2 separate regions of the Homo sapiens genome follow, and region 2 is linked to region 1. Evidence: fine-mapped expression QTL. Tissue or cell type: whole blood. Region 1 holds a variant in brackets; the other region holds the start of a gene. All regions are shown on one strand. Distances are between the middles of the regions.

What was found. PIP is the estimated chance that this variant, and not a neighbour inherited with it, causes the effect.
Region 2: it holds the start of TFDP2, and the variant in region 1 is fine-mapped to the expression of TFDP2 in whole blood (TOPMed, PIP 0.98).

Annotation. Positions count from the first base shown.
Region 1 is chr3:141,843,690-141,848,955 of GRCh38, reverse strand. No RefSeq gene overlaps it. Among named protein-coding and RNA genes, the nearest start is that of ATP1B3, 30 kb to the left of the region's middle. RefSeq lists a cis regulatory region at 104-248. The variant C/T (reference allele first, on the strand shown) is at 2,851.
Region 2 is chr3:142,146,787-142,151,786 of GRCh38, reverse strand. TFDP2 (transcription factor Dp-2) reads left to right here and starts at 2,243. Exons shown (of 13, transcript NM_001178139.2): 1 at 2,243-2,604. RefSeq lists silencers at 1,968-2,017, 2,128-2,337, 2,398-2,467, 2,698-2,747 and an enhancer at 2,098-2,598.

The DNA of each region.
Region 1 (5,266 bases):
AACCCGGGAGGCAGAGGTTGCAGTGAGCCAAGATTGCACCACTGCACTCCAGCCTGGGTGACACAGAAAGACTCTGTCTCAAAAAAAAAAAAAAAAAAAAAAAAAAGACACTCCATGTGCTCCTGCAGCCACCCAACCAACCTCTGCGCTGCAGCCCGTCCCCTCTCACCCCTCACACATTCCAGCAACTGTGCCTCTTTTTCTTGAATCATTTTTATTTTGTTTTAGACTTTTAAAATATGTATTTACTGTAAATTCAGTGCAGAACACCAGTCTAAAATATGTTGTTTGGTGAACTTTTGCATATGTAAATCCCTCTGTTACTGCCACCCAGATCAAGATACAGAGCATTTCCAGTACCCCTGAAGGCTTCCCCATGTCCCATTCAAGCAAGTACCTAGACTATATTACTCAGGGCTACATGTTGGATGGAGTCCAACACCAGTATCCTTGCCCTAACGCACAGGCCAGTTGTAGACTGCTGTGTGTGTGTGTGCGTGTGTGTGTAATTTCTTCAATCTCTAGTTCACCTGACTCATTTTCTTTTTTTTTTGAGACAGAGTCTCACTCTGTTGTCCAGGCTGGAGTGCAGTGGCACAATCTCAGGTCACTGCAACCTCCACCTCCCAGGTTCAAGTGATTCTCCTGCCTCAGCCTCCCGAGCAGCTGGGACTACAGGTGTGCGCCACCACGCCCAGCTAATTTTTGTATTTTTATTAGAGACAGGGTTTCACCATATTAGCCAGGCTGGTCTTGAACTCCTGACTGCATGATCCACCTGCATCAGCCACCCAAAGTGCTGGGATTACAGGCGTGAGCAACCACACTTGGCTCTTTTTTTTTTTTTTAGATGGAGTCTCACTGTGTCGCCCAGTCTGGAGTGCAGTGGCACGATCTTGGCTCACTGCAACCTCTGCCTCCTGGATTCAAGTGATTCTCCTGCCTCAGTCTCCCTAGTAGCTGGGACTACAGGCGCACACCACCATGCTCGGCTAATTTTTGTATTTTTGGTACAGACGAGTTTTCACCATGTTGGCCAGGCTGGTTTTGAGCTCCTGACCTCGTGATCCGCCTTGGCTTCCCAAAGTGCTGGGATTACAGGCATGAGCCACCATGCCTGGCCCACCTGATTCATTTTCTGTTTGAGATCTGGAAGCTGGTTTTCAACCCTGATACTTTTTTTTTTTTTTTTAAACCCTGATCCTTGATCCAACCTCTGGCCTAACTCCTTTTTCCTTCATCGTGATGGCACATACCCTGCTGGGTTTGCCAGGATCCACCCATAGGACTTGGACACAGAAGAGAAACTGGGGCGAGGGAATTCAAGTTGTACATGGGCAGATTTCAGCTCCATGAACTGAAGCAGGGACCCTGTCGCTGGGCATGTGCAAGAAGCAGCTGCAGGGCCACATCTGGGCATGGAGCAAAGGGAACTCTTGGACTGTGAGGGAGTTGAAAACCATCATCTTGACAATTTCTTCCAAATCTAATCTCCTGTGGGACCGAGAACTGACTGTACAAAGTGATCTAGGGCGTCAGTCAAGGACACGACCCTTTATGCTGATGATCCATTTTGCATTCCAGAAAATAGTGATAGAGTTTCAGATTTAACCATTTTGAGCCTCTTTCTTCAGCTGTAAGAGTCAGGAAAACAGCTGGGCACGGTGGCTCACGCCTGTAATCCCAGCACTTTGGGAGGCCGAGGCGGGAGGATCACCTGAGGTTGGGAGTGCAAGACCAGCCTGACCAACATGGAGAAACCCCATCTCTACTAAAAATACAAAATTAGCCAGGCATGGTGGCATATGCCTGTAATCCCAGCTACTCGGGAGGCTGAGGCAGGAGAATTGCTTGAACCTGGGAGGCAGAGGTTGCAGTGAGCCGAGATCACGCCATTGCACTCCAGCCTGGGCAACAAGAGCGAAACTCTGTCTCAAAAAACCCCACAAAAATTAGCCGGGCATGGTGGCGGGTGCCTTAGTCCCAGCTACACAGGAGGCTGAGGGCAGGAGAATCGTTTGAACCTGGGAGGCAGAAGTTGCAGTGAGCCGAGATCACATCACTGCACTCCAGCCTGGGTGACAGACTGAGACTCCATCTCAAAAAATAAAATAAAATATAATAAAATAAATAAAATTTTCAAAATATTATATATAGGCTGAGTGCGGTGGCTCACACCTGTAATCCCAGCACTTTGGGAGGCTGAGGTGGGCGGATCACTTGAGGTCAGGAGTTCGAGACCAGCCTGCCAACATGGTGAAACCCTGTCTCTACTAAAAACACAAAAATTAGCCGGGCGTGGTGGCATGCGCCTATAGTCCCAGGTACTCGGGAGGCTGAGGCATTAGAATTGCTTGAACCTGGGAGGCGGAGTTTGCAATGAGTTGAGATCGTGCCACTGCACTCCAGCCTGGTGAAAGAGCAAGACTCTGCCTCAAAAAAAAAAAAATTACTTATTGTATATACCAATCTTATAACTACATATTAATCTGTAGAGATATTTCTATGAAGATATGTATTCTTTCAGGCTCTTTGCTCCTTTGGAATCATATCATTAAATATCATTTTGTAATTTTTTTAAATTGTAGAGTAAACATTCCAGCCTATTAAACATTCTTTAATAACATTCCTATAAGGAAGTACAGAGATTTATTTAACTGGTTCCTTATTGTGGCCGTCTGGGTTGTTTCCAGGTTTTCCATATTATAAACAATACTGTGGTGCATATTCTTGTGTCTATTGTCTGATTATTTCCTTAGGATGGCTTCTTAGAAGTGGCATTGCTGGGTTAAAGGGAAAGGACATTTTCCAGGCTTCTGATTCTTATTACCAAAGTGCCCTCCTGAAACA[C/T]GGTACCAGTTGTGTTCCTGACAACGGCCTATTTTTGAAAAAATTTAAGTCCAGCACATTGTAACAATGGAAGTTCAAGATAAACTGTAGCAGCTGGTTTCTGGGATGGTTTCTGTGTCAGATGAGCTGGGAAGCCCTGGGTTGAGGAGGGAGCCTCATAAGCTGGCTTGGACCCTGCAGGGAAGTCTTACTCTACTCACACCCGCATGTTTAGTGAGAAGCCCATTAGGTCAGATACAGTCTCTCCACTGGGGCAAAGTTCACTTAGGCACCTTTTGGCATAAGCAGGAAAGGAGGCCCTACCTTCAGCTCACCCAGCCCCACTTTCTCTGAGCCAGGTCAATGAAGCAAGCTGATGGCCTGGCCAGCCCAGCCAGCTTGGGGGCCTGTGGTTAGAATAAGCCACTTTGCTGCAGGCCTCACCATCCTTCTCTCCAAATTATCTGAAAACTGGCTATAGATCAGGTCCTGCATAGAAGCAGAAGCGCAGACAGCAGGGGGTGCTGCCAGCCACTTCTCTAGTCACCTCCCCTGTGCAGACGTGGGACCCCTTTCCCTGCTTGAGGCTTTTAAGAGCCTGGGCCCAGCCTTACCGGCAATATCAGTAAGCTCAGCACCTTCTCCCCCATTTCCCACGCACCAGACCTGGAGTAAATGGATAAGAATTCTCATTACACTTTTAAGTATTCTTTTTGCTGTTTTTGTTATCGCTATTGTTATCAGAAGTCAAATCTGAGGCAGAAAGGAAGGGAGGTCTTCGGAAAATCTTTGACCTCCAATTTCTTCAATAGCTTGTGGTTCCCAGCTTGTACGGTAATGTTTTAACATTTCCAAGCTGGACAGCAGACAAGGCGGTGGGGGTGGGGTAGTGTGTGTGTGTAGGGGAAGCATTGCTTCTGGACAGTAGAGTGTTAGAAAGCACCTCTAGAATAGTGAGAAAGACCACTAGATTCAGTAGACTAGAGGTCTTCAAAACACTGCTATTCATAGCAACCCAGATTAGAACAATCTCTATACCTAGCAATAATAGAACAGATAAATAAATTGTGGTGTATTTGTCCAGTGGAATACTATACAGCAATGAAAAAACCAAGCTACCATCACACAGAATATGGGTGGCTCTCACAAACCCAATGTTGGGTGAAAAAGCCTGACACAGAAGAGCACATGTTGTATGACTCCACCGATATAAAAGTTCAATAATGCTAAGTGTTTAGGGATGCCTATTAGGTGGTAAACTATAAAGAAAAGTAAAGCTGTGATTTCCATAAAATTCAAGGTAGTGGTTACGCTTGATAGAAGAGAGGATAGAGGCTGTGATTGGGAAGGAGTGTGAGGTGGCTTCTGGGTGCTGGTGATGAGCTATTTCTTGACCCGAGAGGTAGTTACACAGATGTATTTCTACTTTACAACAATTATTTAAGCTGAATCCTTATGTTTTGTGCATTTTTCAGTATGCGTGTAGTTGTGTACTCTTGTGTCTGTATGTGTTTAAAAAGATAAAGGGCCAGCATTTTCCCAGGTAAGTCATGAGTTGACTTGAATATTGCATCTCTGTGGTGCACATCTGTGATGCATATCAAGGACTCCTATGAGTCTGTGCTTTCATAGGCCACTCTAGTGGCTGACAATCAATAAGACTGTGTGATGGGGCAGAGAAAGAAGGAGATCTACCCAACTACTGAGCCACAAAGCTGAACATACTTACCTCATTTAAGCCTCTCAGGGCATTTAAACTCAGGGCGGCCAGGATCACAAAATAATCATTCCAGTTTAAAAGGCAGAGGATAATCTAGAAAGAAGTTCCCATCTGTTAGAGTCAGATAGCCTGAGGTCAAAACTTGTCCATGCCTGAGAAATCTATAAAACTGAGCATAACACCTCTTTCTAGGGCTCTGAGGAGGAATAAATGAGCTAATTTGTAAAGTGCCTGACATATTTTGATGCTCAATAAATGTTAGAAATATCCTCATTTTACTCAAGAAAGCACAGTGCCTGCATGGAGTTGGAACTTGTCTAAGGTCATCTGTTAGCAAAGGGAGGACTAGACATTCAAACCTGGGTGTTTCTCTCTTAGAGTCCAGGGCACCCCTGACTAGCTATGTTATAATAGGAGACTAGACTGTGGGAGGTCTATGCAGCAAGAGTAGTTCACGGGCTGAAGTGGGAAGGCATTTCACAGAGAATGTGACATTTGAGCTGACCTCTGAAGAAGAGGAGAGGCATGGTAGGCAGAAGAGTGAGTACAGGCCCAGCCTCAGAGGTGTGAAAATTCATAGCATCATTGGTGAACGGTGGGTGAATGATTAAGTCACTTAATTTGTCTCAGTGTTGGGTTCCATATACACGGAATTAAGGTAAGAATACCTGCTCTGCTTATTTTATTTTATTTATTTATTTTTTGAGACATAAGCTT
Region 2 (5,000 bases), 300 kb before region 1:
CTCAGTTTTTGGCTTAAAAACCAAGCTGTTCCTCCTTATTCTGAATTTCTTGGCCTGCTGTGAAACTAACATTTACTGTCTTTTACAACATGCCCTGATTAGGTCATGGAAATTCACAACTAAATCAAACTAGGATATGGAAAATTTGAAACTTTCACTGCCCATTTTATGTAATGGCGTTGGAAGGTGTTATAAAACATTGACTTTTAAATCTTTATTTTCAAAAGCTATATTATACGATGAATATAATAATTGCCATCATTTATTGAACACTTACTACATGCATTACATAGCAAAATCCTCATACTACCTCTGCAAGAGAGTAAGTTGAACCATATGAAAATTGCCCAATATCAGCAATTTCATGTGGTTCAACCTAGTATCTTCAGACTCTGACCTATAAAGAGGTTAGGGAATCCCTCATAGCCATAACTTCACTCCAAATTTAGTACTGAATCTTTTAGTACTATCTTTTATAGATAAAGAGATCCTAAGATAGTTACAGCTCCTCTATGACAGCGACCCCTTTCCCTACATTAGCCCAAGCACTTTGTGTGTGTACTTCCATCATGGTTATTTACGCATTGAATTGAGGTGGTTTACAATCCATTTCCTCTGCTACACTGAGTTCCTTGAGGGTGGATGTTTTGTCTGTCTTGCTCATTTTTGTATACGTAGTACCTAGAGTGAAAAGTATTTGTTGAATATAACTTTAAGTTTTCTTAAAGTTATATTTTTTGTGGAAACTAAATTTTTATTGATTTGTTACTGGAGAATGTGAAGTAATCACTGGGGTTTTTGCATTTTAGAATCAGTCAGTGGAGTACTGCATTTGACATTCTTGGACTCTCAGGACTAGTTACATGCAATTATGCATACAATTGTCTCTCCACCCTGCCCCAGAGAAAGATCTGAAAGTGCTCTCTTACCTATCTCATCTCCTTTAGGCATTTGCTTAAATACCACCTTCTCCGTGCTACCTTCCCAGATCACTCTATTTAGGACTGAAGCCATTCCTCCAACACCTCTGCTTATATTTTTTTCCCATAGCACACATACCAGCATGTAATATAGTTTTTGTTTTACGTATTCTTTTGCATATTATCTTTCCCATCCTGCTAGAATGTAAGCTCCATGAAGGCAGGAGTTTTTGTCTCTATTTTGTCCACTGATGTCTCCCCATATCAAGAATAGTGTTTGGGGCCGGGCGTGGTGGCTCACGCCTGTAATCCCACCACTTTGGGAGGCCCAGGCGGGAGGATCTCTTGAGTCCAGGAGTTCCAAACCAGCCTGGGAAACATGGCGAAACAGCCGGGTGTGGTGGCGCGGGCCTGTAGTCCCAGCTACTCGGGAGGCTGTGGTGGTAGGATCACCTGAGACTGGGAAGTCAGGGCTCCAATGAGCCGTGATCCTGCCACCGCACTCCAGCCTCGGTGAGAGCAAGACCCCGTCTCAAAAACAAACAAAGTGGCATATAGAAGATCTATAAGATTTGACTGGAGTAAAATGAGAAAGATCTAATCGTTTTAATGCGCTGTTCACACGGGGTTTTTAACTTCGGCACGAACGAATGAACAAAATCTTTTCATATGGAACCAAGTGTACGGGTATTTGGGGTGTGTGCAGTTTCCGCGGGACAGAATGACCTGTCCTGGTTTGGGTATTAACTTGCCTTGATATTGAAGAACCTCCACATTCCCAGTGGTCTCTAACTCATTGTCTGAATAATTTCAAGGTGTCCCACAGTTGGCCCCACGCATAGCCTCAATCACGATCACTCGCCCCCCTGTCCCTTATTGATGCTCCCCCAGGGCGACCCCGCAAAGGCCTGGGGACCGAATGGAACTGCCCCAGTCCCCCTCCTTCCAAGAGAGCTGGGGTTTTCTGGCTTCGGGGTCAGTTGGAAAAGAGATTCCCACCCAAGTCGCAGGGTGGGAGTAGGGGGGATGAGATAGGAGTGATGAAGGAAGTGTGTCTAAAATTCTAGGCCTCAGGCCCGCAGCTGTCCCTGGAGGCGGCGGGGAAGCGGGGTGGTCGGGTCCTGCGGAGGGCTCCCAGGGAGGCCACAGGGGGAACCAAGGGGCGGTGGCTGAGTGCACGAGTCCCGCCCCTCCATCTGTTGGCCCCCTACTCTCAAAGGGAAGCCTGGGGGCGGGGTTTGTTTACTCCGTGCACGCACTGCCGGCCCGGCCAATCCGTGGGGAGCGGCGCCAGGCGTCGCACATTCTGAGGGCCAATCGGCGCGCACTGTGCTGCTCCGCCGCCAAAGCTCGCGCGGGGGAAGCGGGGCTGTAGCTGGGCAGGGAGAGGGCGGACGAAATCGGTAGCGATCTCGGCTGCGGCGCTGCCGCAGCTGCCCGGCCCGCGGGGCGCGCCCTGACCCTTCATCTTTGGGCAGGCTCGAGGGCGCGCGCACGGTTGGCGTTCTGGGGCCTCAAACTCCTGGGCCTTGACCGGGCAGGCCGCGTCTCCCCGGGTGTGAGTCCACCGGGACCCGGCCGCCGCCTAAGCGCGGGCGCCACAGAAGCGGCGGCGCCCGAAGACGCGCTCCTGGCTCGGCCCGACAGCCTCGCTTGGCCGCCAGTTCTTCTGCAGCCGAAGGCGGTAAGGTCTGGGGCGAGGGCGCGGGCCCGCGCGCGGAGGGCCTTTGGACCCGGCCGGGCGCGTTCCTGGGTAGGTTTCCCTCCCTGCGCACAGGGGCCCCCTTGTTCCCCCACGAGTCCCATCTGTTTAGACCTGGGTTCTCCAGGCCTGGCCGGGTAACCCGTGAGTGTCTGGGCCAGAGTCGAAAGCAGAGGAGGGTCACCCTCTTAGTGCATAGAGCAAATCGGGGGAGGTAACGTCCCTGAGTCACGCCTCGTGGAAGAGGGGAAGGGCTGCTTTCTACTTTCTCGTTCTCTTCAAAGAAGGATGGCTTCTAAATCTGGTTTTCCGATTTTTCCCTTCTCCTTTCATGACTCACAGGCCTCTGTGTCCACCAGGTGTTTTGTTTGTTTTTAAAGAGTTTCTAAGCTTTGTGTGCTTGGAAGAACCTCATATGCCCCATAAAGGAACTTTTCTCTGAAGTAGAGGATCGCTTTTTGGGCCCAGACTCCTTTGAGAAAATCTGGAAAGCCAAGGTCTGTCTTCACAAAGAAGTGTAAGGGTTTTCCTAGGATCTCGCTGAGAGACAGTACAACGAAGTGGATGAGCGCCCCAGTCTCTCTTACCAGCCTGTGCTATCTCCCATTGTGTGATCTCGGTTTCTTCATCTGTAAATTAGATGCATCCACCTATTCGGTGTGTTTCGGGGAGTGAATGGACTAATGTATGGAATGCAATCGTAAGAAAATCCTCCACGTATTAAATGCCTTGCATTAGTTAGGCACTTTTATTATTGACTGCCATGGATGCTGGTTTAGAAAAAGACCCTATATTATTTCCCTTTTAGTGTTGAGACAGTGAACGGGCTCATTCCTTTTCCATATTCACTGCTGAAGCTGCCTTTGAGCCCATGAATACTTTTATCTTTTCCTCATTCCATCTCAGAGGGCACAGACTCCCTCTCACTTATTTGCTTTCTTTCAGTAAGGCTCTCTTTTAGCTCAGCCTTCTCCTTCCCCTGTCTCCCCGAGATCTGAGTTTTGTGTCTTTTCATTTGACTTGCACAACCTACTTTTTTTTTTTTCTGGGCCATGTGTTTTCTCTTCATGGCTTGAATTTATCTTCACCTAATAAATAATTTACCTGTTTTTTTTTTCAGCTCGTGAATATATATTCATCTATTTTCTATATGGCATAATCATGTCCCTGTCTCTCTTTAAAAGTAGATATAAAAATAGTTTAATTGATCTATATTGCAGCTTCCTTTTCCATTTCATTGTTTAGCCTGTTATTTAGCTAAACTTTATCACTATCAGATTACTGTAATTAATCTTTAATGGCAGTGTCCATTCTCAGACAGCACCAGGAGAAAAATCAAATGCCTAGACCCCAGATTCTGTCACACTTGTGTACTGGCTCTGGATGTGTTTGTTATTTATTAGAACATCTTGTGCCTGTAACTAGTCTAGTCTAAGAGTAGACATGGTGTCTGTAGCGTTGTTCTGGCTGTGCAGTTGCAGTTTGAGCACTGTGGCCCTTACATTTGTTAATAAAAGGTTCAAGACTTACTAAACTCTTACTTTTCAGTTCTCTTCATTTCTAGGTGTTTAAAAAGGAAAGCTGAATTTTTGCAGTGTGTAATACTTCATATTCTCATTTTGTGATCATGTAATTCCTCCCACCCTGACTCTTGTGAATGTGTAGTCCAAGTGGCACATGGAAGTTTTTCTCTGGCAGCTAAAATTCTTAACTGTCTGAGCCGTGTGCCCTCAATATAACTGATGAAGTGGGATGTACTTCCTTGTCATCATCTTTTAAACTCTTATTGCAATATGTGTTATAATGGATCTCAGAAGAAACTAGAAGGCATAGATTGAGAGTTCTTTTAGATCATAGAATTTTAAATTGTAGTGGATTTTAAAGAGAATCAAATACACTCACCTCTTCATACTTAAATCCTTTCCGTTTTAATCTGGGATACATGACTCTAGGTGTGCGGCATGAATAGATATGAAAGTAGGCTTGTGAACTCTTGGAAATATTATGCAAAATTATGCATATTTGTATATTTTTTGGAGAGACTATTTATAGTGTCATAGTTTCTGAGGCAAAGATATTTGATCAATTCTTTTTTTTTTTTTTTTTGAGACAGGGTTTCTCTATGTTGCTCAGGCTTGTCTGGAACTCCTGGGCTCAAGTGATCCTCCCACCTCACCCTCCCAAGTAGCTGGGGTTATAGGCACACACCTCGCCATGTTTGGACAACTCTAATTTTTATAAAATTATTTCTTTCACTGAACTAGAAATTGTGTCCTCACTGTCTCTTCTGTATTGTGGGTTTTCAACTATTTGAAGATACTTATATTCCACTGAGTGTTAGAAAATATTCTCAGTCTTTAACCTCTGCTAGTGACTTT